7 linked regions of the Homo sapiens genome follow. The protein of the gene in region 3 purifies or fractionates together with the protein of the main gene of each other region. This does not show direct contact. Each region holds a gene or a part of one and is shown on either strand. Other genes may lie near its edges. The genes, in order: TAF5L, UBAP2L, YEATS2, SETD1B, KANSL3, ZNF608 and KANSL2.

Region 1 (3,500 bases), on a different chromosome or scaffold from region 3:
CCTGCCTTAGACTCCCGAGTAGCTGGGATTACAGGCCCACGCTACCACACTTGGCTAATTATTAAATTTTTAGTAGAGATGGGGTTTCACCATGTTGGCCAGGCTGGTCTCGAACTCCTGACCTCAAGTGACTTGCCTGCCTTGGCCTCTCAAAGTGCTGGGATTACAGGTGCGAACCACCGTGCCTGCTCTTCCATTCTTTTTTAAGATGTAAAATTCCACCTTTTCCGGAAGTCTATTTATTTATTTATATTTTTTTTTTTAGTAGAGAAGGGGTTTTGCTATGTTGTCCAGGGTGGTCTCAAACTCCTGGGCTTAAGCAATTCTCCTTCCTTAGTCTCCCAAATTGTTGGGATTACAGGCATGAGCTACCATGCCTGGTCTTATTTTTCTTTAAACATAAAAAAATTATTTGTATCTAATTTTCGTCCATCTGCAGTTTCTTTTAGTGTATGTGTGGTGAATAACCAAACAAATGTTTTGCCCAGTGACTGTAGCTAACACACTGTCCCAATACCATTTGCAAGTAATTATTTCCTTCTAAACTGATTTGTGGGAGCCCTTTAAAAATATACTCTGAAGACCTACTTTTCAATTCCCTACAAGTCATACAACAGAGCAAACTGTGAAGGCTAGAGACATACTCACAAGTATATATACATGTAAATATAAAATGTTAGGACATTATATATATATTAAACTATATGCCCAGAAAGATTACATTATCTGTGCATTTTATTTCTAGGTTGCCAAAGAGTTCAAAATATTTGTTACAAAGAAGGGGTACTAGGTGTGTGATTGTTAAAAAGAAGGAACACTATGGTTGTGAATCAGTGACATAATGAAACACAATAATAAATTTCCAAATACTGAACTCTCTTCTCACTATGAAATTTACCTTGCTTGGGTATGGTGTATTATTCTCTCACTGTATTGATGACTTAGGTTACTTTTTAATTAAGCTGTTTTTTTAAATTGCTAATACAGGGATTCTGATACTCTGAGAGTGGGGTCCCTGCTCCCATTCTCTGTGGCCACTGATCAGCACTGCTCTATCAGTGATCCTCCAACCTGGCTATACATAAGAATCCCATGAGTGTGTGGATATGTATATAAATAATTTCAGCCCTGCAGATTCTGGTTGTGTTATATTTAGAGTAAAAAAGTTAAATGCACACGGAGGCTGTGACAGTACTGTCCTTTCCCGTGTGGCCCAAAGTCAAGACGAGTCAATCCAACCAGTGCCTCTTCCTATCACTTGCTACAGCTGCTTTTCATCTAACTTCAAGATCTCCTACTCTGCGGGCTTTCCCAAAGCAGCCCAATTCCCTACTCTAGCTGAGACTGAAATCTTTCCGGCTTCCACACTGCCGATCTTTTGCTGACTTGGGAATGCATGCAAATATTGATGCACATCCGTGAGCATTCCAGGCAGATGGGCCTCGATCTCTTAGATCACCTCTGACAGGAAAAAACTCTGCATGTGAAAGACATGTGAATGACTGATCTGGAGAACAGGCTCTGCAATGACACAGTGTCCTCAAGGTGCGACAATATACCTATGTGTCTGAGGAGGAAGGGAAAAGATGTGAAGTTAGGAAAGAGTAAACAGAACGGAGTAAGAATGAATGATAGTCAACACTGACCATATTTAAGATTGCTAGAAACTAGTCTGTAATACTGATTCTAACAAATATGCTTAAATTAGCTGCCCCAAATAGCAATTTCTCTGAGTCCAAACTACCATTTATGATAAGGGCGCTTCCCTGAGGGTGGGTGGTGAATCAACTGTATGGCCATGGATCTTAAGGGCAGGAATTCTGGCAATGACTCTCTTGCATAACCACGCTAAACTCAAATACTAGAGACACGACCCAATCAACTCAGCTGGGTTTTATTCCAATGTACATATATTTCAAGTGACATGGATAATTAATGAACCTGAGATAAATCGGTCCCCTCCACCCAGACTGATTTCCAGAGTACTAATATCCAAAAAGGGACAAGTGAAGAAAAAAAACTCTCCTTAAACTAGACCTAAGTCTCTGGAGAGACTCATACATGAGACGAACAGTGCAGTTTCGTTACCTGCCTAGCTTTTCCTATAATTATAAAATCTTTCAAACTGAAATTGGATTTAAATATAATTATACTCTTTGTTAACATTTCAGAATTTCTCATCATTTTCAATTTATATAAAATACTTAACTTTCAGAGGTAAAAACAGATGTCAAATACTCTGCTCTTCATATCACATTATTGATATTTCTGGAAATCAAAAATTTCTGGAGGATTTTGACACAATGTATATCTATTCTCATGTATCAACAGTTGCCAGATTGGTATTTCTGGAAATCAAAAATTTCTGGAGGATTTTGACACAATGTATATCTATTCTCATGTATCAACAGTTGCCAGATACTTCAACCAAGTTGCTATATAAAATCCCACATGATCATTTCAATGTAACAACTCTGCAGGGAAAACCACAGCCACACTTAACATTCAACTACAGAAACATGGGGAGGTGGAGATACATGGAACCCAGGCATCCTCTTAAGATGCTGTCAGTGTGGAACTCTAGTCTGGTCAATCCCTTCAGTGGTTACACGCTGCATCCTATCCCTCCACCCCCACCCCCGTTAGGCTCTAATGTACACGGTCGGTAGAGGAGGGCTGGGAGGCACCCTCATCCACCATATCACAGGTTAAAGTACTACACAGTTCCACGAAATGCCAAAAGAGTACTACCTGGCTCCCCCATCCCTCCCCCTGCCCCAATAAGGTGGCAGTTTTGAGTAGGGGTGAGTTCAAGATAAATTCAGGCAAACTCACTACACAATCCTCAAATCAGCTCTTCAACTGAGACTTCTGACTGTTGGCTTTTGAGTAATTGTATCTTTTTTCCAATGGCAAATTTATGTTTATAACAGAAGAAAAAAATTATTTTTTTGCATTTTTTTGTAAAGTGTCTACTAGGTAACTCAAGTTATTAGTTCTCTTCACTCACAGCAACTAAATGGTTGTAACATCAAAAGATCAGTCTAAGTAGGACCTAAAGCCCTAGCTTTGCATTAATCATCATGATAAAGTGTATTCAATAAGCTTTGTGAAAATATAAATCACAACTGAAAAATAAATGAGCCATACTACTTTCAGTTTCAGTCATACCTCATATAATTTAAAAATTATGATAGCCTTTCATATTCAATCTTTGCTCAGACTGACATAAATACACTTGAACTAGAAGCTGTGTTTTTTCCCATGGTGTCCTAAGAAATAAAATGGCACATGGATAAGGCCGTAGCTGGGCTCAGGACGCAGTGAAGAATGTGGCGTTTTGGTGGGGATGGCAGCAGTGGTAGAAAGTAGGTGGAAATCACGAAATCCAGCAAACAGATGTCATGAGAAGTAGATTTTCTCCAACATCAGCTGGGACCTCCATGATGTTCCAGAAGTCTTGTTTCATCAACTACTTACCCTACAGCCTTCCACCTACG
Region 2 (3,500 bases), on a different chromosome or scaffold from region 3:
GTAGAAAGTATCCTGGCATCCATCTACAGTATTTGATTATGCCTTAATACTGGTATCTTTTCTCATAGTGTACAGTAAATTAGTGATACACTCACTTGTTTCACCTTCTCCTCAAAGTCAGCATCATTATGGTCCGAAATCATCTGTGCAAGTCTAATTTGTTCTGCAGTGGCCTAGGAATTGAGATGAGATCAAGAAAGCATAATCATGAGGCAACAGTTTAGAGAACAGGAACCTATTTCGTCAGCCTCCACTGCCCCAATTTTCTTTTCCTTGTAACAAATGAGCAAGTAATAAAGCACCATTTAGGACGCTTAATGGGGGATCAGGGATAGGTGCGGGTGGTGGCTCACGCCTGTAATTCCACACTTTGGGAGCCCAAGGCAGACAGATCACCTGATGTGAGTAGTTTGAGACCAGCCTGGCCAACATGGCAAAACCCCGTCTCTACTAAAAATACAAAAATTAGCCGGGTGTGGTGGTGCACACCTGTAGGTCCAGCTACTCGGGAGGCTGAGGCAGGAGAATTGCTTGAATCTGGGAGGAGGAGGTTGCAGTGAACTGAGATAGTGGCACTGCACTCCAGCCTAAGTGATAGAGCAAGACTCCACCTCAAAAAAAAAGATGCTTAAATCAGTAAAATGACAAAAAATTGAGTGAAACTGTTACAGAAAGAGTAAGGAACTCATTCACCAATCTTCACAGTTAAAGGGACTTCCGTCTTAGAATCACAGAACCGCTCTGAAACATCTGCCCCTTAATTCATATTAAGTCACAAAGCCATGTGTAAACTCTATTCTTATTTCTGTAATAACCAACGCCATCCTCTTATTCCTAGAGCTTAGAATACAAGTCTGACAATAGACTCAACACATCTTCTATATATCCAGTGTATGTTCAGATACTAGGAATTTTACTGCCCCAACTAAGTATTATAATTCTACTAGAAATCCACTTGAAAACACAGATGAAAGAAAAATGCGTAAGGGGGATGTCCTAATCTTACATATTCGATTTATCTGACCATAATCAAATATAAGTAATTCATTCACATTACATACCAACTAACATCAACCTGGTATGAGAAACAGAATATATCTACATCAAAGTTAATATCCAAGAGGTTAATTTACTCTTTAAAACTTAAAATTGAGCAATGCTCTAAGGTGTTTCATTTAATTTTGAAGAAACATAGTGAAGTTGCCAGCTCCTCATGGGAAAGGAATAATCAGGTAAGGTCTCAATGGAACCAGAGAGGAAAATAAAAGACAAGTTGGGGAAAAGAGGAGCAAAGGATAAAATCTGGAATGGAAAAGGCTTGCTAGAGAGGTATCAAGGTGGGGCAGGGCACAGCGGCTCATGCCTATAATCCCAGTACTCTGGGAGGCCGAGGCAGGTGGATCACCTGAGGGCAGGAGTTCGAGACCAGCCTGACCAACACGGTGAAACCCTGTCTCTACTAAAAATACAAAAATTAGCTGGGCATGGTAGCACACTCCTGTAATCCCAGCTACTCAGAAAGCTGAGGCAGGAGAATTGCTTGAACCTGGAAGGCAGAGGTTGCAGTGAGCCGAAGTGGCGCCATTGCACTCAAGCCTGGGCAACAGAGCGAGACTCCGTCTCAAAAACAAAAGAGAGAGATATCAAGGTGGAAGGTCTAAGAAATAGAAAGGTATTGCTAAAATGGCCCAGGTAAGAGAAGGGAAATGCTATCTTAAGAGTTATAGAGCCGGGCAGTGACTCACACCTATAATCCCATGAGTTCAAGACCAGCCTGGGCAATGCAGCAAGACTACCATCTCTACAAGAATTTTAAAATTAGCCTGGCATGGTAGTGTGCACTGGTAGTCCCAGCTACTCAGGAGGCTGAGGCGGGAGGATCACTTAAGCCCCAGAGGTTGAGGCTACAAATGAATGGTGACTGTGCCACTGCACTTTGACCTAGGCAAAGGGAGCTCCTATCTTAAAACAAAACAAAAAAAAAAAAGATAAAAAGCACAGGACCCATAATAAAGTGCTAAGCCTCATAATACAGTATTAAACAACAAAAAAGTAAGCATCTTGCCTTACAGCATGTCATGAACAGTTATCAGGACCTAAGTAAAAAAAGAGCCAAGGACTAGAAAACAAAAATAAGGAACCTAAACCAACAGTTCAAAGCACAGAATGATGCTGTACTGCATGGAAACCAGTATCAGCAGGCAACGCTATCCATGAATCCGTATGCCTTGGATTATTTACCTGTGGCCGCTGCTTGTGCTGTGTCTGGTTTTGGTTTTGAGGTTGTTCCCAGTTTCCCCGGGCTCGGTTAGTGCCCACCGATGTCATCATTTACAGTATATACAAATAACAGTATTTACAAGGTAGAATACTGAAAGATTTAAAAGAAAATTAGGTATTAAATGTGGGCAAAATATGTTTTTAACTCTCTCATCAGCACCTTCACCACCAAACACTTTCACTTCTTCAAAGGAACAAATCAATAAGATTCATTTATTCTTACAACATAATTAGCTTGATAAATTCCTTAAGGAGCTATGGCTGTTAATCCATTTTTATGTAACAAGAAATGTATAAAGCATGTGTAAGTGATGGATTTTTTTAAGAAGTTACAGCAGTTTGGTTACTAGTCCCCCATAAGCAGACTTTACATTTAACTAATAATCAAAAGCCTTTTACATAGATGCAAGTATCTGAAGTACCTTTGACAGAAGGAAAGATAATCAGTAAAGTCTGGAAACAAAAACCTTCCAGGAAGGAGATTAGTCTACACTCCAGAGAAATAATTTTAAATACTGTATTCAATCACCTAAGAAAACAGCCTTACCTGCCTTACAACCTTTTTTATGTAAGCTGCATGTGACCTCCATTGCTTGGGAAAGGACAAGTTCAAGTCTAGACTCTTCTTTGTCCCTCAAGTTTCATCTCTCTCAGTATGCTATGGGTTTGTTTTGTGTTTGTGGGGGTTTTTTGTTTTTTTAAACCACAGCCTTCAACAGGGTACGTATTAGCCCCAATGACTTTGTCCAGAATCTCTGTTCTCTGGAAAATAATTCCAACACACTGCTTTTACAGGTGCTTCTCTTGGTCTCCTAGTCCACATTTTCAAGAAACCAAAATGGCAATTACCCTCCACCACTCACCTTAATATACAGGGAATCTCAAATTTGTCTCAAACCAAAAGCATCTAGCACAAAGTTTTATTTGGAAGAAAGTGCTTCTAAGAAATCATTTTAAACTTGAGACCTTAATGCTGGCAAGATGACTTAGTTGAGTCTTTAAAGAGACACAGAACACACAGGGCCTTCCCCAAACCAGAATATAGTTTTTGTTACAAGACTTCTAACAAGGAAGGATTCTACTGAATTCAAGTTCCTTTAGTTCATACTTTGTTTTATAATACAATCTCAGCTGCTGCATTTAGTAAAAAAGAAAACATTAATCATATGATAGAGTGTTCAAAATAATAGGTTACTCTGCATTTATTCCCTTCCAAAGAG
Region 3 (3,500 bases):
AAGTTTTATTGCCAGCAACAGAAAAAGAAACAAGCAGAACGAACAAAGGCTAAATCCTAAAACCAAAGTGGGGAGATCTAGAACGAAGGGGATTTGTACTACACAAGTCTACTGTTGAAGCTTTAGGAAGCTTTTTTTTTTTTTTTGAGATGGAGTCTCACTCTGTTGCCCAAGCTGGATTGCAGTGGCGCAATATCGGCTCACTGCAACCTCTGCCTCCCAGGTTGGAGTGATTCTCCTGCCTCAGCCTCCTAAGTAGCTGGGACTGCAGGCACCCACCACCACATCTGGCTATTTTTTATTTTATTTTATTTTATTTTTTTAGTAGAGGGAGGGTTGAACTCCTGACCTCAGGTGATCCGCCTGCCTCAGCCTCCCAAAGTGCTGGGATTACAAGCGTGAGCCACTACGCCTGGCCCCTTTAGGAACATTTTAATGAAACTGACTTTCAGTAATCCAAATACATATGATCCATTTCCTGAATTCTATTTTGAAAACTAAATACGGCAGCAGCTTCACCCCAACACCATCCACTCTTCCCAAAGACTGTTCAATGTACACTCTAAGAATATATATCCATTTTAATATTATACTGAGAAAATCATTAGGCATGCAGAAGCCCTATCAAAAAAATCAAAATCTATATTTCAATGTCAATTAAAATTTCTCCACCTATTTAAACATTACTCTTAACACTGTCACCTCCCTTTGATACAAAGAACTGAAAAAACAAAATACACCTGATCGTCTTTCCAAAGTTATGCTCATTTTGTAACAGAAGGAACGAGAAGTTATCTATTAGGTTGGTGCAAAAGTAAAAACCACAACTACTTTTGCACCAACCTCTATTAAAGGACAGACTCAGACCAAGGGAACTCTAGGAGACAGAAGATTCTGTTATGATTTTCACCAGAGTTAGTACCGACAAAAAAATGCTATGCTAATTATTCTAAGTCAGGTCTGACACACAAAACCTTTTGAATATGTTCCCATTTGCTGGCTAACATATCACTTTTTCTTTAACTCATCTGGCATCCAAAACAAAAACAGATCTTTTAAGTAAAAATAATCAAAATTTTATACTGGACCTGAATGGCGAGAAGCTGAGCGATCTGGTCATTAGGACTGACGTGATGTGGGACATTTCTAATAACATGTAAAGAGCTGAGCAAAAGACAGCTGAGCTCAAAAACACTGTCTCATTATTTCAGTCTTATATATTTCCAGGTCAAAAACACCAACTTTCCTATAAATAAAACGGCTTTAAGACTACACAATTTGCTAATATGGTCAGCCCCCAGAATCCATTCTGGCCAGTACGCTGTCTACAACCTTGCAAACTAGCACACAGAAGACTGTAGGATAAAACAGCTCCTCTAAATTATCCATGCCACTGCTTCTCTCCATTAATGCACCTGGAAAGCTGACTTTAGGTAACTTTTACCATTCCCTTTTTTTTTTTTGAGAGAGAGAGTCTTGCTGTCGCCCAGGATGGAGTGCAGTGGCGCAATCTTGGCTCACTGCAACCTCCGCCTCCCGGGTTCAAGAAATTCTCCTGTCTCAGCCTCCGAGTAGCTGTGACTACAGGCGCACACCACCACGTCTAATTTTTTTGTATTTTTAGTAGAGACGGGGTTTCACCATATTGGTCAGTCTGGTCTCGAACTCCTGACCTCAGGTGATCCACCCGCCTCAGCCTCCCAAAGTGCTGAGATTATAGGCGTGAGCTACAGCACCCGGCCACTTTTACCATTCCTTTACCCCACCGGTTCAACTTTCTTTTTCTGGAAGAATGAGGCATGTGGGATGTTTAAGGGGTTTGAGATTTTTAAGGTAATTTTTTTAATTTTTTGAGACAGTGTCTCACTATGTCGCCCAGGCTGGAGTGCAATGGCACGATCTTGGCTCACTGCAACCTCTGCCTCCCGTGTTCAAGTGATTCTCCAGCCACAGCCTCCCAAGTAGCTGGGGTTACAGGCACGCACCACCACACCCGGCTCATTTTTGTATTTTTAGTAGAGACAGGGTTTCTCCATGTTGGCCAGGCTGGTCTCGAACGCTTGACCTCAAATGATCCACCCGCCTTGGCCTCCCAAAGTGCTGGGACTACAGGTATGAGCCACCGCGGCTGGCCTGATGCAGATTGTTTCCATATCATCTGTTCTGTAGTAGTTAGGGGGAAAAAAAGCTTTCGAAGGCTGGAGTTCACTTCATGGATGAGTCGGAATTTGATTCTTGAAGGATGAAGAGCATTTCGGTAAGCGGAGAAGGTAGAGGTGAAATATGAGCCCATTGGAAAGTAACTGTGAGATGTTCAGGCATGTGAACTTTGATGACTGCAGACATGGAGAAGTAGAACTAGTTCTAGGCAAGGGCTGTTTATCCTGCTTGTCTGAGGAGTGAGCTGTGGGGAACCTGTTAAGTGGTTGTAATGAAAGCTGAGGGTGAGGAGAATGCAGTGGGGAGGGGCTTGAACTTTACCTGCAGTGCTTCTACTGGCGATTGTTATGTATTTTGTTTTTAAGTTTTAATTTATTTGAGAGTGTGGATATACTTTTTTAATTGAAATATAATTCACTTAACTTAAAAGGTACTGTTTTAGGCCAGGCACAGTGGCTCATGTGCCTGTAATCCCAGCACTTTGGGAGGCCAAAGCAGGAGGATTGCTTGAACCCAGGAGTTTAAGACCGGCCTGGACAACATAGGGAGACCTTGTCTCTACTGAAAAAGAAAAAGAAAAAAATTAGCTGGGCATGGTGGTGTGTACCTGTAGTCCCACCTACTTGGTAGGCTGAGGTGGGAGGCTCGCTTGAGCCCAGGAGTTCAAGGCTGCAATGACCTACGGCTGCATCACTGCACTCCAGCCTGGGCGACAGAGACAGACCCTGTCTCAAAAAATATATATATTGACCGGCCGGGCGCGGTGGCTCAAGCCTGTAATCCCAGCACTGGGAGGCCAAGGCAGGCAGATCACGACGTCAGGAGATCGAGATCATCCTGGCTAACATGGTGAAACCCCGTCTCTAATAAAAATACAAAGCAAAAAAACTTAGCCAGGCGAGGTGGTGGGTGCCTGTAGTCCCACCTACCCAGGAGGCTGAGGCAGGAAAAGGCGTGAACCCGGGAGGCAGAGCTTGCAGAGAGCTGAGATTGCGCCACTGCACTCCAGCCTGGGCGACAGAGCGAGACTCCTTCTCAAAAAAAAAAAAAATTTATATATATATACACACACACACACACACACATATATATATACACACACCAGTTAAAAGAGTGCAATTCAGTGGATTTCAGTATATTCACAAAGTTGCACAAAAATCACCACTATCTAATTCCATAATGTTTTCATCACTCCAAAAAGCAACCACTTACCTCTTAATTGTCACTCTCAATTCTCCTCTCCCTTCATCCCCCTGGCAACTACTTTTTGTGTGGATAAACTTGCCTGTTTCTGGACATTTCGTATAAATAGAATCATACAGCACGTGGCTTTTTGTATC
Region 4 (3,500 bases), on a different chromosome or scaffold from region 3:
CTTGCAGAACCCACGTATAGGCGATCGCCCTCCATATACAGTGGGTTTCGCATCCCACCGGTCTTTTCCGTCCATATTTGGTTGAAAACTGCATGTCCGTGGGCCCTAGCCATGTGTTCAATGTACAGGGGCAGCTGTAATCCTTTCCTGAAGGACTTATTAAAGGTAGGTGCTAGGACCGGGCATGGTGGCTCACGCCTGTAATCCCAGCACTTTGGGAGGCCGAGGTGGGTGGATCATGAGGTCAGGAGATCGAGACCATCCTGGCTAACGCGGAGAAACCCCATCTCTACTAAAAATACAAAAAATTAGTCGGGTGTGGTGGCGAGTGCCTGTAGTCCCAGCTACTCTGGAGGCTGAGGCAGGAGAATGGCGTGAACCTGGGAGGCGGAGCTTGCGGTGAGCCGAGATCGTGCCACTGCACTCCAGCCTGGGTGACAGAGCGGGACTATGTCTCAAAAAAAATAAAAATAAAAATAAAAAAAGAGGTAGGTGCTAACCACATGCAGCTATCTATGTAAGCCAAAATAAATTGAACACTATTATAAATTCAGTTCCACTGTGCCACTGGCCACGTTTCAAGAGTTTGGTAGCAACATTGTGTCTGAAGGCTACAGTGCTGGACAGCACAGCCTGAGAACGCTGCCATCACTGTGGAAAGTTCTACTGGCCATGCAGTTAGAGTTCTCATATGCTCTGTGCAGCAGCATCACGATGCCGGAGGGGGCAATGCCTGCAGCCCTCACCTGGCCCAGCACCCCAGGGCCTACCCCACCGACTTGTCACTCAAGTGACCATGGACACCCATCCTCCTTTTGGGGAGCATCTCATGGGACTGATGGTCCAAGGACCAAGCCACCAGGGAAACGCTGGCAGTGAGGACTGAAAAATAGCAGTCGTTCCCCTTTGGGTTGATCCATGCAGTGCCAGGCTCAGTGCTGGCACCCAACACCTCATCTCGCTCGAGGGAGGCACAACCGGCTGATCTCGTTTTACACGGGAAACTGAGGCTGGGGACGGTCAGCGATCTACCCCAGGAAGCCCGGGCTGATTCTGACAGTGAGGACTTCCTGCCTCCCTCCCACCACCCTCCCAGGGGGTTGCAGGTGTTACCTGGAGCTCGCTCAGGGGACAATGGGGGTCGAGCCTCCACCTCCTTGGCAGGGGGCTCTGGAGACAGCAACATGGCCCCTTCCTGGCTCAGGCCTGGTTCCTCAGGCGGCTCCCTGGAGTCCGCTGGCTCTTCAACACCCACAGGCAAGGGGGGCTCGTCCAGCATGGAGGGCCGCTCCTCAGGGGCCACAGCCTCAGTCTCGATGTCCACCTCCTCTTCCATGCCCAACGAGTCCACTGCAGGTGCCCCCGGGGCCAGAGCCGCTTCCTCCCCGTCCTGCTCAAAGTCCTCAGGGCCTGCAGAAGCCATGCTTTCCTCGGCCACCATCTCCTCCTCCTCCTCTTCTTCCTCCTCTTCCCTGGCCACTACCTCCTCCTCATCCTCCGAGGATGAGGGCGAGGACTCGGAGCTTGACTCAAACTCAGAAGACTCGGAACTCTCACTGGACGACGTGGCTTCGGCCTTGGAGGTTACAATGCTCACTGTCTCCTCTGGATGGGGGACACAGACGAGGGGCTGCCTGAGGACCCGCTGTGCCCCAGCCCCCACCAGACCCCTCACCAATGGCCTCAAACTGGTGGCACCCAGGCTGAACACGGCCCTCAGATATGTGTGTGGGGCATGTGTTCACTAGGAGTCTTTTTTTTCTTTTTTTTGAGTTTTGCTCTTGTTGCCCAGACTGGAGTGCAGTGGCACGATCTCGGCTCACTGCAACCTCCACTTCCTGGGTTCAAGCGATTCTCCTGCCTCAGCCTCCCAAGTAGCTGGGATTACAGGCATGCACCACCACGCCCGGCTAATTTTGTACTTTTAGTAGAGACAGGGTTTCACCATGTTAGCCAGGCTGGTTTCAAACTCCTGACCTCAGGTGATCCACTTGCCTCAGCCTCCCAAAGTGCTGGGATTAAAGGAGTGAGCCACCACACCCGGCCGCTAGTAGTCGCTTTTAAAAACTGAGGTAAAATTAACATAACAGAAAACTGCTCACTTTTTTTTTTTTTTTTTGAGACGGAGTCTCGCTCTGTCGCCCAGGGTGGAGTGCAGTGGGGCGATCCCGGCTCACTGCAAGCTCCGCCTCCTGGGTTCACGCCATTCTCCTGCCTCAGCCTCCTGAGTAGCTAGGACTACAGGCACCTGCCACCATGCCCGGCTAATTTTTTGTATTTTTATTAGAGACGGGGTTTCACCGTGTTAGCCAGGATGGTCTCGATCTGTTGACCTCGTGATCCACTTGCCTTGGCCTCCCAAAGTGCTGGGATTACAGGCGTGAGCCACTGCGCCCAGCCAAAAACTGCTCACTTTGTAAAAAAAATTTTATTTATTATTTTTTTTGAGGTGGAGTGTCACTCTGTCACCCAGGCTGGAGTGCAGTGGCATGATCTCAGCTCACTGCAACCTCTGCCTCCTGGATTCAAGCAATTCTCCTGCCTCAGCCTCCCAAGTAGCTGGGATTACAGGTGCCCACCACCACGCCTGGCTATTTTTTGCATTTTTAGTAGAGACGGGGTTTCACCATGTTGGCCAGGCTGGTCTCGAACTCCTAACCTCAGGTGATCCACTCGCCTAGGCCTCTCAAAGTGCTGGGATTACAGGTGTAAGCCACTGCGTCCGGCCAACTGCTCGTTACAAAGTGATAATTCCAGCAGCATTTAGTACATTTGTAATGTTGCACAACCACCACCTCGATCTGGTCCCTAAGTATTTTTATCAGTTGAAAAGGAAGCCATGTAGGCTGAGCAAGCCCCCCTGAACACCGGGCTCCCCAGCCCTAAGGACCACAGACCTGCTTTCTATTTCTATGGACATGCCATTATGTTCACGGCACTCCCTGAAGATGGAACCGTACGCCACCCTGTGTGTGTGTTTTAACAAGGTAACGTCTCAAAAGCACAACATTTTGGCTCAGAAGTATTTCTGACAATTGCTCAGGCTCTGCCCCGGGGAAAGAGGGACTCCGGGAGGGCCAGGCAGCCACGGCCTCCCTGCTCACCTTCATCCGAGTCCCCTTCGTCCTTCTCACTCGCCTCTGACAGGGCTGTGTCCTCGTCATCGTTCTCAGACTCGTCCCGGTCATCACTGTCGTCATCGTCGTCATCCTGGGGGAGAAGGAAGAGTGGGGACAGGTGAGCCGAAGGGTCTGGCCCTCGTCGCCTGGCCCGGCCCCCTGAGGCTTCCTGGCCTGCTAGGCACCTTATCTGATGTGGATGAGGTTGAGGAGGAGGAGAGCTGGCTCCTGGGGACTTCCTCCTCCTCCTCCTCCTCCGCCTCCTCTTCCTCCTCGGTGCTCTCCTGTTCCTCCTCCTTGTCGGAGGCCGAGGACGAGGGTGAGGTGGTTGAGGACCCCGAGGATGATGACGCGGATGAGGACGAGGACGCCGACAATGAC
Region 5 (3,500 bases), on a different chromosome or scaffold from region 3:
ACCCCAGTGTCTCTTATGCTTTGCAGTTATATCTCTCCTTATAAATTAAGAAACTCAGCCAAGTGCAGTGGCTCACACCTATAATCCTAGCACTTTGGGAGGCAAAGGTGGGCAGACCACTTGAGCCAGGAGTTTGAGACCAGCCTAGGCAACATGGTGAAACCCAATCTCTACAAAAACTACAAAAATTAAGAAATGGTGACGTACTCCTGTAGTCCCAGCTACTTGGGAGGTTAAGGTTCCCACCCGGGAGAATCACCTGAGTCCTGGAGGTCAAGGCTTGTAGTGAGCTGAGATCGTGCCACTGCACTGCAGTCTGGGTGACAGAGTGAGACCCTGTCTCAAAAAAAAGAAAAAAGAAACAAACTGGTATTTATAGTATTATTAAGTCTCTAATGACTTTGATAAGTATGAATTGTCCACAAAAACCTCTTAATCATAACCATGGATAAACTGACAAAAAAAAAAAAAATCACACAGTTCTCCTATGTACTTTCTGAAATTGCAAAGGACAAGGTAGTAGAAAATACCACAAAGGGATACATAACCATACCAGGCCACCTTGTTCAGCCACCACTAACTGGTCTTAATCTCTTCTTACTGCCCTTAATTAAGGCAGAGGGTATGGTAGTTGAGAACACTGGGTTCTGGAGTCAGGCTGCTTGGTTTGAACAAAATCCTTCTCCATCACTTCCTAATTAAGGTTTCTTAAACACCCTGAGCTCAGTTTCTTCATCCTGTTGAGCAGAGATGAAGGGGGGATATACCTCCAAGAGTCATTGGGAGGATTAAGAGACAATGCATTTGAAGAGACATTGATACAATGTCTGGCACCTAGAAAGCACTCAACAAACGGTAGCTCCTTTTTGTTATTACCATCGTCGTTATTTTTTATTATTAACTGTAAAAATAGTGATAAATCCTTTTGCTGAATATACTGACTCTAGCAATATTCCAGTAGTTGATCTTCATTCGTAGCAGTTTTCTTCTTTATCTGAAGCTCAAAAGAGCTTTTTTTTCTTTTTTTGAGATGGTGTTTCACTCTTGGTGCCCAGACTGGAGTGCAATGGCACGATCTCGGCTCACCACAACCTCCGCCTCCCAGGTTCAAGTGATTCTCCTGCCTCAGCCTCCCGAGTAGCTGGGATTACAGGCATGCGCCACCACACCCAGCTAATTTTGTATTTTTAGCAGAGACAGAGTTTCTCCATGTTGGTCAGGCTGGTCTTGAACTCCCGACCTCAGGTGATCCACCCGCCTCAACCTCCCAAAGTACTGGGATTACAGGCGTGAGAAAAGAGCTTCTTAAGGCACTAAATTAATTCCAATGCAAGACCCCAACCAACTTCTTCACAAGCTTTTTCAACCAAGGTGCAGAACTGCTCCTCCCTCAACAGCTGCTGTTTTGATCACACAAGCACACCTGTTCAATCTCATTCCCAACTTCCAACCAGCTTCAGAAGTCATGTCAATCACCTCAAACTTTCTACCCCTCTTTCTCTCTATTATAAAATAAGGGTTCTCCAAAATTATGGAAAGTTACCACCTACCAACTCCTGATATAAGAAGTAACATTTCCTTATATATATAGTAGATATATGGATACACAGACAAAAAGCCATCAACAAAATATAAGTTGAAACCACAATGAGATGCCACTTTACACGCAGTAGAATGGTTATAATTTTTTTAAAAAAGAAGAAAATCAGTAAGTGTTGGCAAGGATATGGAGAAACTAGAACTCTCATACACTGCTGGTAGGAATGTAAAATGGTACAGCCACTTTGGAAAACAGTCTGGCAATTCCTCAAAGGTTAAATACAGAGTTATCATATGACCCAACAAGTCCACTCCCAGGTATATAACTAAGAGAATTAAAAACTTAGATCCACACAAAAACTTGTATGCAAATGTTCATAATAGCATTATTCACAATTGCCAAAAAATGAAAACAATCTAAATATCTATCAACTGATTAATGAATAAATAAAATGTGGGCTATCCATACAATGTAATGTCATTTGGCAATAAAAAGCATGAAGTGCTGATACACGCAACCACATGGATAAACCTTGAAAACATCATGCTGGGTGAAAGAAGCCAGTAGGAAAAGACCACATATTGCATGATTCCATTTATATGAAATGTCCAGAATAGGCAAATCTATAAAGACAAAAGTCAATTAGTGCTTCCTAGGGACCAGAGAAGCTGGGAGGAAACGGGAAGTAACTGTTTATGGGTAAGAGGTTTCTTTTTAGGATGATGAAAATGTTTATCAAATTGATAGTGGTGATGAATATACAACTCTGACTATACTAAAAACCAATGACTGTACATATTAAATAGCTGAATTGTATGGTATGTAAATAATATCCCCAAAAAGCTGTTATGTAATTAGGTAAATGTTTACCAAATGAACAGGGACAAATAACCAGGAGAGGAGTGCTGAGTCCCCTGGGGGCAGTAGAAAGCTTGGGAACAAAACTAGCCAGTATACTCGTGAAAATAGGCTTCAGTGTGCCCTCCATAGCCTGCAAATCTATTTTTAAAAGCCACTCAAACATCTGTTAGCTTTTCATGTGACTTCACAACTTCCATCATCCTAGTTATAAACCATTTAAACACAATATCTTACAAATGTACATTTCATTTTTTTGCAGTTTGGGTAACCCCTATATCATAACTTATACAACAGAAGCTACTACAGAGCTAGTCATATGTATCAAATTTAATTCACTTATTTATTCAACAAACATTATATGCCTACTGTGTGCCAGACAACGTCCTAGTGTGAAGTATGCAAAGATGGCTGAGATGTAAGCCCTACTCTCAAGGAGCTCACACACAGCATGGTGAACTGAGAGTTATAATGTGAGACTTTGGAGAACACTCTGACTTGTGTTGCTGCAAATGAAATAAGGTCCTAATAAGTGTTATTTCAATGAAGATGATACAAAATAATTACAGGGCAGTGATCATCCTCCTGATGAGCAGCCTACCTGTTGACATGCTCCTCCCAGTCCTCTGGTGGAGGAGGGGCATCTGCATCAGTCCTGGCAAAGATGACATGCCGTTCACACTCATTCATCACGCTGCGTGCCTTCTGATTGTCATAGAGTGGCATAGGCGTTGATGTGACCGTCTCCACATCTATTGGGACGTCTGATTCACTGTAAACAGGTGAGGAAATAGGACCGGGCCACACATACTTCACAGGTATTTAACAATCATCTGGTTGACAAAAAATGTATCTTTAATACAGTCAGCTTTAAATTACGCATAAGCACATTATATTCACAAGAAAATTTTGATCCAAAGTCATCTTTCCCACACTTGTCTAGATCTCTGCCCTCTCAGACATGATGGTATGTACTGGAAGAACACAAAGTCATTTTTTCAATGAGTCTATATAAAAAATGATAAACATCTATTTTTTTTTTAAGATAAATATGGGCCAGGTGCACTGGCTCACACCTGTAATACCACCACTTTGGGAAGCC
Region 6 (3,500 bases), on a different chromosome or scaffold from region 3:
AAGCAAGTAACAGATGTGAAAATGAGCATCCCCAAAAGAGCCAGGTGAAATCACAAAGTACACAATGCAGTAAAGAGGAGTCAACACTCCAGTAGCTTCAGGGCTGGGCCCAGTCAAGGAAAAGACTGACAATTTCCAACACCTGCAAAAGAACAGGCGACCAAGGGCTTATATTCTTCCTCAGAAAAACCAAAGAAAAACAGCTCAAGTAGCTAGCTTCCAAACCAGTTCAAATTCCCACTTTGAGAAAAAATGAAAACAAAGACAGGAGAGAAGGGGTGGGGAGCAGAGATCTTCTGATAGAAAAGAAATTTAGCATCTGCATTTTACTGCGTTCAATCCTAAATTGCTCATTTCTCCTTTGCCTGGTTTCAATTACAGGCACACTTTTATGTATTATGAATCTCTCTCTACAGTTTCCCTGCAAAGAGAGGATGGGGAAGGAGAGAAATAAAAGGCCCTGTTCATACCTGGGAGGGGCCCAGTCGTGCTTGGTGCAGTCCAGTAGGGTTCCCACGTACGTTTTGTTCCTCCACGTGACATTGACCACTAGGACACCTGCAGGAGGCAGGGGATGAAAAAGGATCATAGTTACCACTGATTACTGTTATTTCCAGTTCACTTATTATTTTTTTCTCTTTTTTTTGCCAGCAAGTTCTATTCTCATTTGCTTTTAAAAGCTGTGGTTTGCATTCTTCCTCTTTCTGGTTTCAGTGACCTCAAGTTAAAACCCACAGGAAATAATGTGTGTTGTGCATTCGTGCGCGTGCGCATGTGGTACAAAGGAGTGAGACTGTGTGTGAGAGTGTAATCAAGATACTGCTGACAGAAGGAAATGGTTTTTGCCATGTCCTGCTGTAAAACAGCAACACTCACCTCTTAATTTTTCTATTATTACACATAATTGCTTTCGTTTGGCAAGCAGCCAATATAAACTAGCGCCAGTTACCAGTGCTTAAACCAGAGGGTGACTGAAAGGAATCGGTTTTGTTTCCAATTCAACAATATAAAATGATGGTGATTTTTATTAAGAAAAAATAATTATGCAGGTGCATAAAAATAGGCATAGACAGGAGAGTGGGGACTCAAGAGTCCAGATAGCAGACAATCAACTACGATTTCACTTCCCTAATCCTCCCCTCTTTGACTTTGTGAGACAGTAATCAGCCTGGGTACCGTATCTGTTTCAGTGTTTGGTTTTGTTTCATATTAAGGACTCCTAAAATAGCCCTCTTAAGAAAACAAATGTGCACAATAGATTTACTCTTGGGGTTATCTTTGGAGTCAACTTTGGTACGCATTTGCCTCAGAGGATTAGAAAAGAAATCTCAAAACTAACACACTCGTTTCCTGCAAGCCATTCTGCTTTTTCCAACTGCTTTTCAGACAGACAATTTAATTTAGCACTGCATCTGTGAATTACTAAACTTAAGTGTGCTTAGTATACCAAATGTCACAGAGAAAATATAATATCCTCTTTATTTCTGAGAGGACAAATGCCAAATTACAAAAATCACTTCTTTAAAGCATATTTTAATAGAACCTTGATTTTGAGACATACATAAATTATTAGGGTAAAGAAATAAAATATTTAACTGAGCCTTTGTTTTCTTTTCTGCATCTACCCCTACTCTTTCTTGGAAGCACCAGAAGACATTAGTCAAAATCTGTTTCTAGCTAGTTTGCTCACTTGCATTACCATTGCCATTGTGAATTTTACAGAAAACCTGTAGTGGGCTCCTTTACAGTAAGGGAAACCTGACAAGGTAAGACTCATTTCCTTGGGAACCTTTTAACAGCAGGTAAAATATTTCAATGGTTGGGACTCAAGTAATGGAGAACGATTTCTTTCCAAAGTCTCAAAAGGAGATTTTAAAATTGTTTCCCATATGGTCTATGTTGCTATTACTTAGGCAACAGCTGAATTATTTACTCTGTGTTAATTCAGTGTACTGTAGCAATAGGCTAGCAGGGGAAAGGCTAGGATGGAGCAAAGCAAGTATTTCCTCAAATCATAGCTGATTCCAATGAAATTCCCTCAGGAAATTTTTTTAAAACCATTGTGTATAAAATTTCCTATTGCGATGAGAATCCATGGTAATTAGGCATTTGGTCAAAATCTGCACAAGACAGAACAATTGGAGGAAAGGATTCTTTATGAACACATCCCTTCAGGAAAGGGGAGGGGGTGGGAGAGGAGGCAAAGGGGAAGACTGAGCTGGTTTTCTCATCATCTTCTCTCTGGGGCACTGTGTGTGGTGTCAAAGACCTTTGCAGCTGCTTAAAATTCTTTAGCATGTCAGCTATATTTACAGTGCAGGAATATATCTGTACTGCCAGAAGGTTACTGCATTTTAGCTTTAGATCCAATAGGCTGAATCACTGCGTTCCAGAGTCCCTGATGTAGCACAAATATATAATTAAAATTGCTTGAAAGGAAACATGAAAGAAACAACAAACCTTCCATTCTTGCAGTAATAAAATTAAAAACAGGAAAAGTCTGCACAGACACTTAACATTTGTCTGCAGTGAAAGGCTTTTGTTATTGCTTTTCCCCTAAGGGTTTCGCGTTTCCAGAGAACGCTGGCCGCGGATTGGCCGGCGCCCGCTGCGAGCACTCGCGTCTGATTGGCTGGGCCGAGGCGGCCGCCCGGAGCACAGAGGCAGCGGTCGGGTAGAGGTGAGCGTGGCGGAGGCAAAGGGACGCATCCCCCACGGCGCGCTGGCCGTGCGGGGCTAGAGGGCCGCCTGCGCTGCTCGGCTCCCTCGGTGCACGCGGGACACAGGCTCATTCGCACTAACGAGTCCGGCCGTGCAGTGAAAGCTTCGGTCTGCGTGACCGTGCTGCGCTCCCCGCGCCACGCGGCTCCACACAACACGCCGGCCCACGCAGAACCCTCAGAACGAAATTCACCGTCTCAATACAGGCTCAAGGGAAACCTGGAGTCTGAAAAAAGGAAGGGACCCAGGGCAGGCAATTAATCACTGGTTATCTGGGGCCACAGGTTGAAGCTGTCACAAAGGCTAATCTGCAGTTGCAACTTCCTCACTGTAAAATTATTCACATCTCCTGCTGCTCTTTCTGGAAGCCACACAAGCAGACCTCTTATCGAAGTACAAGTGATGCCGTTGTTATTTGCACTCGGAAGGAATCAAGTCCTGGAAAGAAAAATCCATTTTCAACCTCAAAGGGCCTAAATAAGTAACCCTTATTTTTCCAGAAGCACTCCGTATTTAAAATGCTCAAAACAAATGCTTTACACCCAAGGAGATTTTGAACAGTCTCCATCAAGCAGTGCTAATTAAATATGTGTGCTTGTGTCTATCTTTCTTTATATGTACGAGCCGCTTCACAATGCCACAGAGTGTTTAAATCTGCCCACAATTCACATCCGAATATATACAGGCACATGTTTACACAGCCAAATCTGCCACTCTATATTGGAATGAAGGCTTAAGGAATGTTTCTCATATAAACTACACAGTGTACTGTTTCTTTG
Region 7 (3,500 bases), on a different chromosome or scaffold from region 3:
CATGCGGAACACTTTAAACTTTTATTAATCTACATTCTTAATGTTTTGATATGAAATCATCACTTACCAGTCAAGACAGCTTTAAAGTGTTCAATTAACATGTATCTTTCACATATACATATATACATGTATATATACGTATATATATATACATGTATATATATATATACGTATATATATATATATATATATATATTTTTTTTTTGAGATAAGGTCTCACTCTTGTCACCCAGGATGGAGTGCAGTGGTGCAATCAATCACAGCTCACTATAACCTTTGCTTCCTGGGCTCAAGCGATCCTCCCACGTCAGCCTGCCGAGTAGCTGGGACTACAGGTGTGCACCACCCCACTTGGTTAATTTTTGTATTTTTTGTAGAGATGGGATTTCACCATGTTGTCCAGGCTTGAACCCCTGGGTTTAAGCGATGCTCCCGCCTCAGCCTCACAAAGTGCTGGAATTAAACGCATAAGCTACTGCACCTGGCAATATATTTTAATTAAAGCACTAAAGATACCAACATCAAATAATTTTTTTTTTTGAGACAGTCTTGCTCTGTCACCCAGGCTGGAGTGCAGTGGCACAACCTTGGCTCACTGCAACCTCCGCTTCCCAGGTTCAAGTGATTCTCCTGTCTCAGCCTCCCAAGTAGCTGGCATTACAGGCACCTACCACCACGCCCAGCTAATTTTTATATTTTCAGTAGAGATGGGGTTTCTCCATGTTGGTCAGGCTGGTCTTAACTCCTGACCTCAGATCGATCTTCCAGCCTCGGCCTCCCAAAGTGGTGGGATTACAGGCATGAGCCACTGTGCCCAGCCAAAATTTGTAATTGTTTAAAAAATATAGGCCTATATTGGAGCTCATATGGACCCTCAAATAACTAGTCAAAATGGGCTATACCCTGTCCTCAGCTAATTTTCTTGACAATATTCTCAAAATTCAGTACCCTAGGTTAACCCTTAATTGCCAAAGATCTGGCACGGATCCATATCAACTTGATTAAGCTTTGCTGCCAATTATAAACTAAAAGAATATCTGGCCAGGCACGGTGGCTCACACCTGTAATCCTAGCACCTTGGGAGGCCAAGGCAGGCGAATCACCTGAGGTCAGGTGTTCAAGACCAGCCTGGCCAACATGGCGAAACCCCGTCTCTACTGAAAATACGAAAATCAACCAGGTATGGTGGTGGGCGCCTATAATCCCAGCTACTCGGGAGGCTGGGGCAGGAGAATTGCTTGAACCCGGGAGGCAGAGGTTGCAGTGAGCTGAGATCGTGCCACTGCATTCCAGCCTGGGTGACAGAGCAAGACTCCATCTCAAAAAAAGAAAAAAAAAAAAAAAGAACTTCTAAAAGTTTTGCTAGTGATTAATATATGGTAGACTGTTCTCTGGCTCTGATTTATGCAATCAAAATTAAGAGATGAGGCCAGGTGTGATAGCTCACGCCTGTAATCCCAGCACTTTGGGAGGCCGAGGCAGGCAGATTGCTTGAGCCTGGGAGTTCAAGACCAGCCTGGGCTGTAACATGATAAAACCCTGTCAATACAAAAAATACAAAAGTTAGCTGGGCACGGTGGTGTATACCTGTAGTCCCAGATACTCAGGAGACTGAGGTGAAAGGATCACTTCAGCCTGGGAGTGGGAGGCTGCAGTGAGCTGAGATGGCGCCACTGCACTCCAACCTGGGTGACAGAGCAAGACCATGTCTCAAAAATAAATAAATAAATAAATAAATAAGTGAATAACTTTGAATTTTAAAAATTTTGTTTCACTCACCGTCTGATCATTACATAAATACAAAGAACAAGCTATATACCTTAAGTTTCATACTGAGTAAAAATTTTATTGAAAAGGCAAAACACATAAATTATACTAATTTTAAGTCAAAAAATTATGCTTTATTACTTTTTCGTTTTTAAGACAGAGTCTTGCTCTGTTTCCCAGGCTGCACTGAAGTGGCACAATGTTGGCTCACTGCAACCTCCGCCTCCCGGGTTCAAGCAATTCTCGTGCCTCAGCCTCCACAGTAGTTGAGATTGCAGGCGTGTGCCACCACACCTGGCTAATTTTTTTATTTTTTGTATTTTTAGTAGAGATGGGGTTTCACCATGTTTCCCAGGCTGGTCTCAAACTCCTGAGTTCAGGCATTCCACCCGACTCGGCCTCCCAAAGTGCTAGGATTACAGGCGTGAGCCACTGTGGCCAGCCTCTGCTTTATTTTTAAAAACTAGCTGTTAAGGCACTGAAATACACAGAATATACAAAATTAACTTTAGGACTGAGAGCAAGTAATTTCTGCCAAAATTTCTTCATAAATATAAACAAAAGCCAATATTACCTGTGTATAAGAGGTACTTAACTATATTCTGAAGTAAAAGTGAAAAGAAATTAAGAAAAATCAAAACATGGTTAATAAAACCAGCAAAGGGCCAGGTGTGGTGCACAAGGCCAAGGTGGGTGGATCACTTGAGGTCAGGAGTTCGAGACCAGCCTGGCCAACATGGCAAAACAGCCTCTCTACTAAAAATACAAAAATTAGCCAGGTATGGTGGCAAGCACCTATAATCCCAGCTACTCGGGAGGCTGAGGCAGGAGAATCACTTGAACCTGGTAGGCAGAGATTACAGTGAGCCGAGATCGCACCACCGCGCTCCAGCCTGGGCGACAGAACGAGACTCTGTCTCCAAAAATAAAAAATTAAATAAAATAAACAAATTAAATAAATAAATAAAAATAATATATAATAAAATAAAATTAATAAAAAATAAATTTAAAAATAAATAAAATAAAATAAAACCAGCAAATTACAGAAATGACAAAAGCTAACAGACTATCAGAAAATGTGAAAAGGCTTTAAAAATATGTAACAGTTGGCTGGGCACGGTGGCTCAAGCCTGTAATTCTAGCACTTTGGGAGACCGAGGTGGGCATACTGCCTGAGCTCTGGAGTTTGAGACCAGCCTGGGCAACATGGTGAAACCCCATCTCTACTAAAATACAAAAAAAAGAAAGAAATTAGCCGGGCACAGCGGCGTGCGCCTGTAGTCCCAGCTACTAGGGAGGCTGAGGCAGAAGAATTGCTTGAACCCAGGAGGCAAAGGTTGCAGTGAGCTGAGATCGTGCCACTGCGCTCCAGCCTGGCAACAGAGTGAGAGTCCGTCTCAAAAATAAATACATAACGGTTTCACAAGGTGACTAAGTTACATCTTCAGAAAAATGGGTTATGCCTACATTAACCTGTCTGTAACCTAAAATACTGAGGCCTTAACCTAATATAGAGTTTGTTAAAATGAAATTCACTTTTTGAATACTGAAAATGAGAAAAATAAAAATTGTTTTAAAAAATTAATTTCACTGCACCCTGTCAGAAGAGAATTTAACCAATGGTCTGGAACTGAAATGTACCTATCTGAAGCCATTACTATTAGAAGTTATTAGAAATCATTTGGTGGGGGCAGTAAGCAACCTACTAAATGAATGCCGGCTGGTTCATGTAA

The links.
Region 1: the proteins of YEATS2 (region 3) and TAF5L purify together in Homo sapiens (affinity purification with mass spectrometry, with the first as the bait; one large-scale study listed by BioGRID). This does not show direct contact.
Region 2: the proteins of YEATS2 (region 3) and UBAP2L purify together in Homo sapiens (affinity purification with western blotting; one study listed by BioGRID). This does not show direct contact.
Region 4: the proteins of YEATS2 (region 3) and SETD1B purify together in Homo sapiens (affinity purification with mass spectrometry, with the first as the bait; one large-scale study listed by BioGRID). This does not show direct contact.
Region 5: the proteins of YEATS2 (region 3) and KANSL3 purify together in Homo sapiens (affinity purification with mass spectrometry, with the first as the bait; one large-scale study listed by BioGRID). This does not show direct contact.
Region 6: the proteins of YEATS2 (region 3) and ZNF608 purify together in Homo sapiens (affinity purification with mass spectrometry, with the first as the bait; one large-scale study listed by BioGRID). This does not show direct contact.
Region 7: the proteins of YEATS2 (region 3) and KANSL2 purify together in Homo sapiens (affinity purification with mass spectrometry, with the first as the bait; one large-scale study listed by BioGRID). This does not show direct contact.

What each region holds. Positions count from the first base shown.
Region 1 is NC_000001.11:229,616,123-229,619,622, forward strand, and holds part of TAF5L (TAF5-like RNA polymerase II p300/CBP-associated factor-associated factor 65 kDa subunit 5L), read right to left. Parts: intron 1-3,500. UniProt on the Homo sapiens protein: Functions as a component of the PCAF complex. The PCAF complex is capable of efficiently acetylating histones in a nucleosomal context. The PCAF complex could be considered as the human version of the yeast SAGA complex.
Region 2 is NC_000001.11:154,223,955-154,227,454, reverse strand, and holds part of UBAP2L (ubiquitin-associated protein 2-like), read right to left. Parts: intron 2,372-3,500; 5' UTR 2,332-2,371; coding exon 2,242-2,331; intron 174-2,241; coding exon 96-173; intron 1-95. UniProt on the Homo sapiens protein: Recruits the ubiquitination machinery to RNA polymerase II for polyubiquitination, removal and degradation, when the transcription-coupled nucleotide excision repair (TC-NER) machinery fails to resolve DNA damage.
Region 3 is NC_000003.12:183,700,797-183,704,296, reverse strand, and holds part of YEATS2 (YEATS domain-containing protein 2), read right to left. Parts: intron 1-3,500. UniProt on the Homo sapiens protein: Chromatin reader component of the ATAC complex, a complex with histone acetyltransferase activity on histones H3 and H4. YEATS2 specifically recognizes and binds histone H3 crotonylated at 'Lys-27' (H3K27cr).
Region 4 is NC_000012.12:121,817,509-121,821,008, reverse strand, and holds part of SETD1B (histone-lysine N-methyltransferase SETD1B), read right to left. Parts: coding exon 3,305-3,500; intron 3,211-3,304; coding exon 3,105-3,210; intron 1,606-3,104; coding exon 1,114-1,605; intron 1-1,113. UniProt on the Homo sapiens protein: Histone methyltransferase that catalyzes methyl group transfer from S-adenosyl-L-methionine to the epsilon-amino group of 'Lys-4' of histone H3 (H3K4) via a non-processive mechanism.
Region 5 is NC_000002.12:96,628,313-96,631,812, forward strand, and holds part of KANSL3 (KAT8 regulatory NSL complex subunit 3), read right to left. Parts: intron 3,232-3,500; exon of another isoform or gene 3,171-3,231; coding exon 3,000-3,170; intron 1-2,999. UniProt on the Homo sapiens protein: Non-catalytic component of the NSL histone acetyltransferase complex, a multiprotein complex that mediates histone H4 acetylation at 'Lys-5'- and 'Lys-8' (H4K5ac and H4K8ac) at transcription start sites and promotes transcription initiation.
Region 6 is NC_000005.10:124,649,140-124,652,639, forward strand, and holds part of ZNF608 (zinc finger protein 608), read right to left. Parts: intron 3,160-3,500; exon of another isoform or gene 2,468-3,159; coding exon of another isoform or gene 2,461-2,467; intron 559-2,460; coding exon 471-558; intron 1-470. UniProt on the Homo sapiens protein: Transcription factor, which represses ZNF609 transcription.
Region 7 is NC_000012.12:48,672,239-48,675,738, forward strand, and holds part of KANSL2 (KAT8 regulatory NSL complex subunit 2), read right to left. Parts: intron 1-3,500. UniProt on the Homo sapiens protein: Non-catalytic component of the NSL histone acetyltransferase complex, a multiprotein complex that mediates histone H4 acetylation at 'Lys-5'- and 'Lys-8' (H4K5ac and H4K8ac) at transcription start sites and promotes transcription initiation.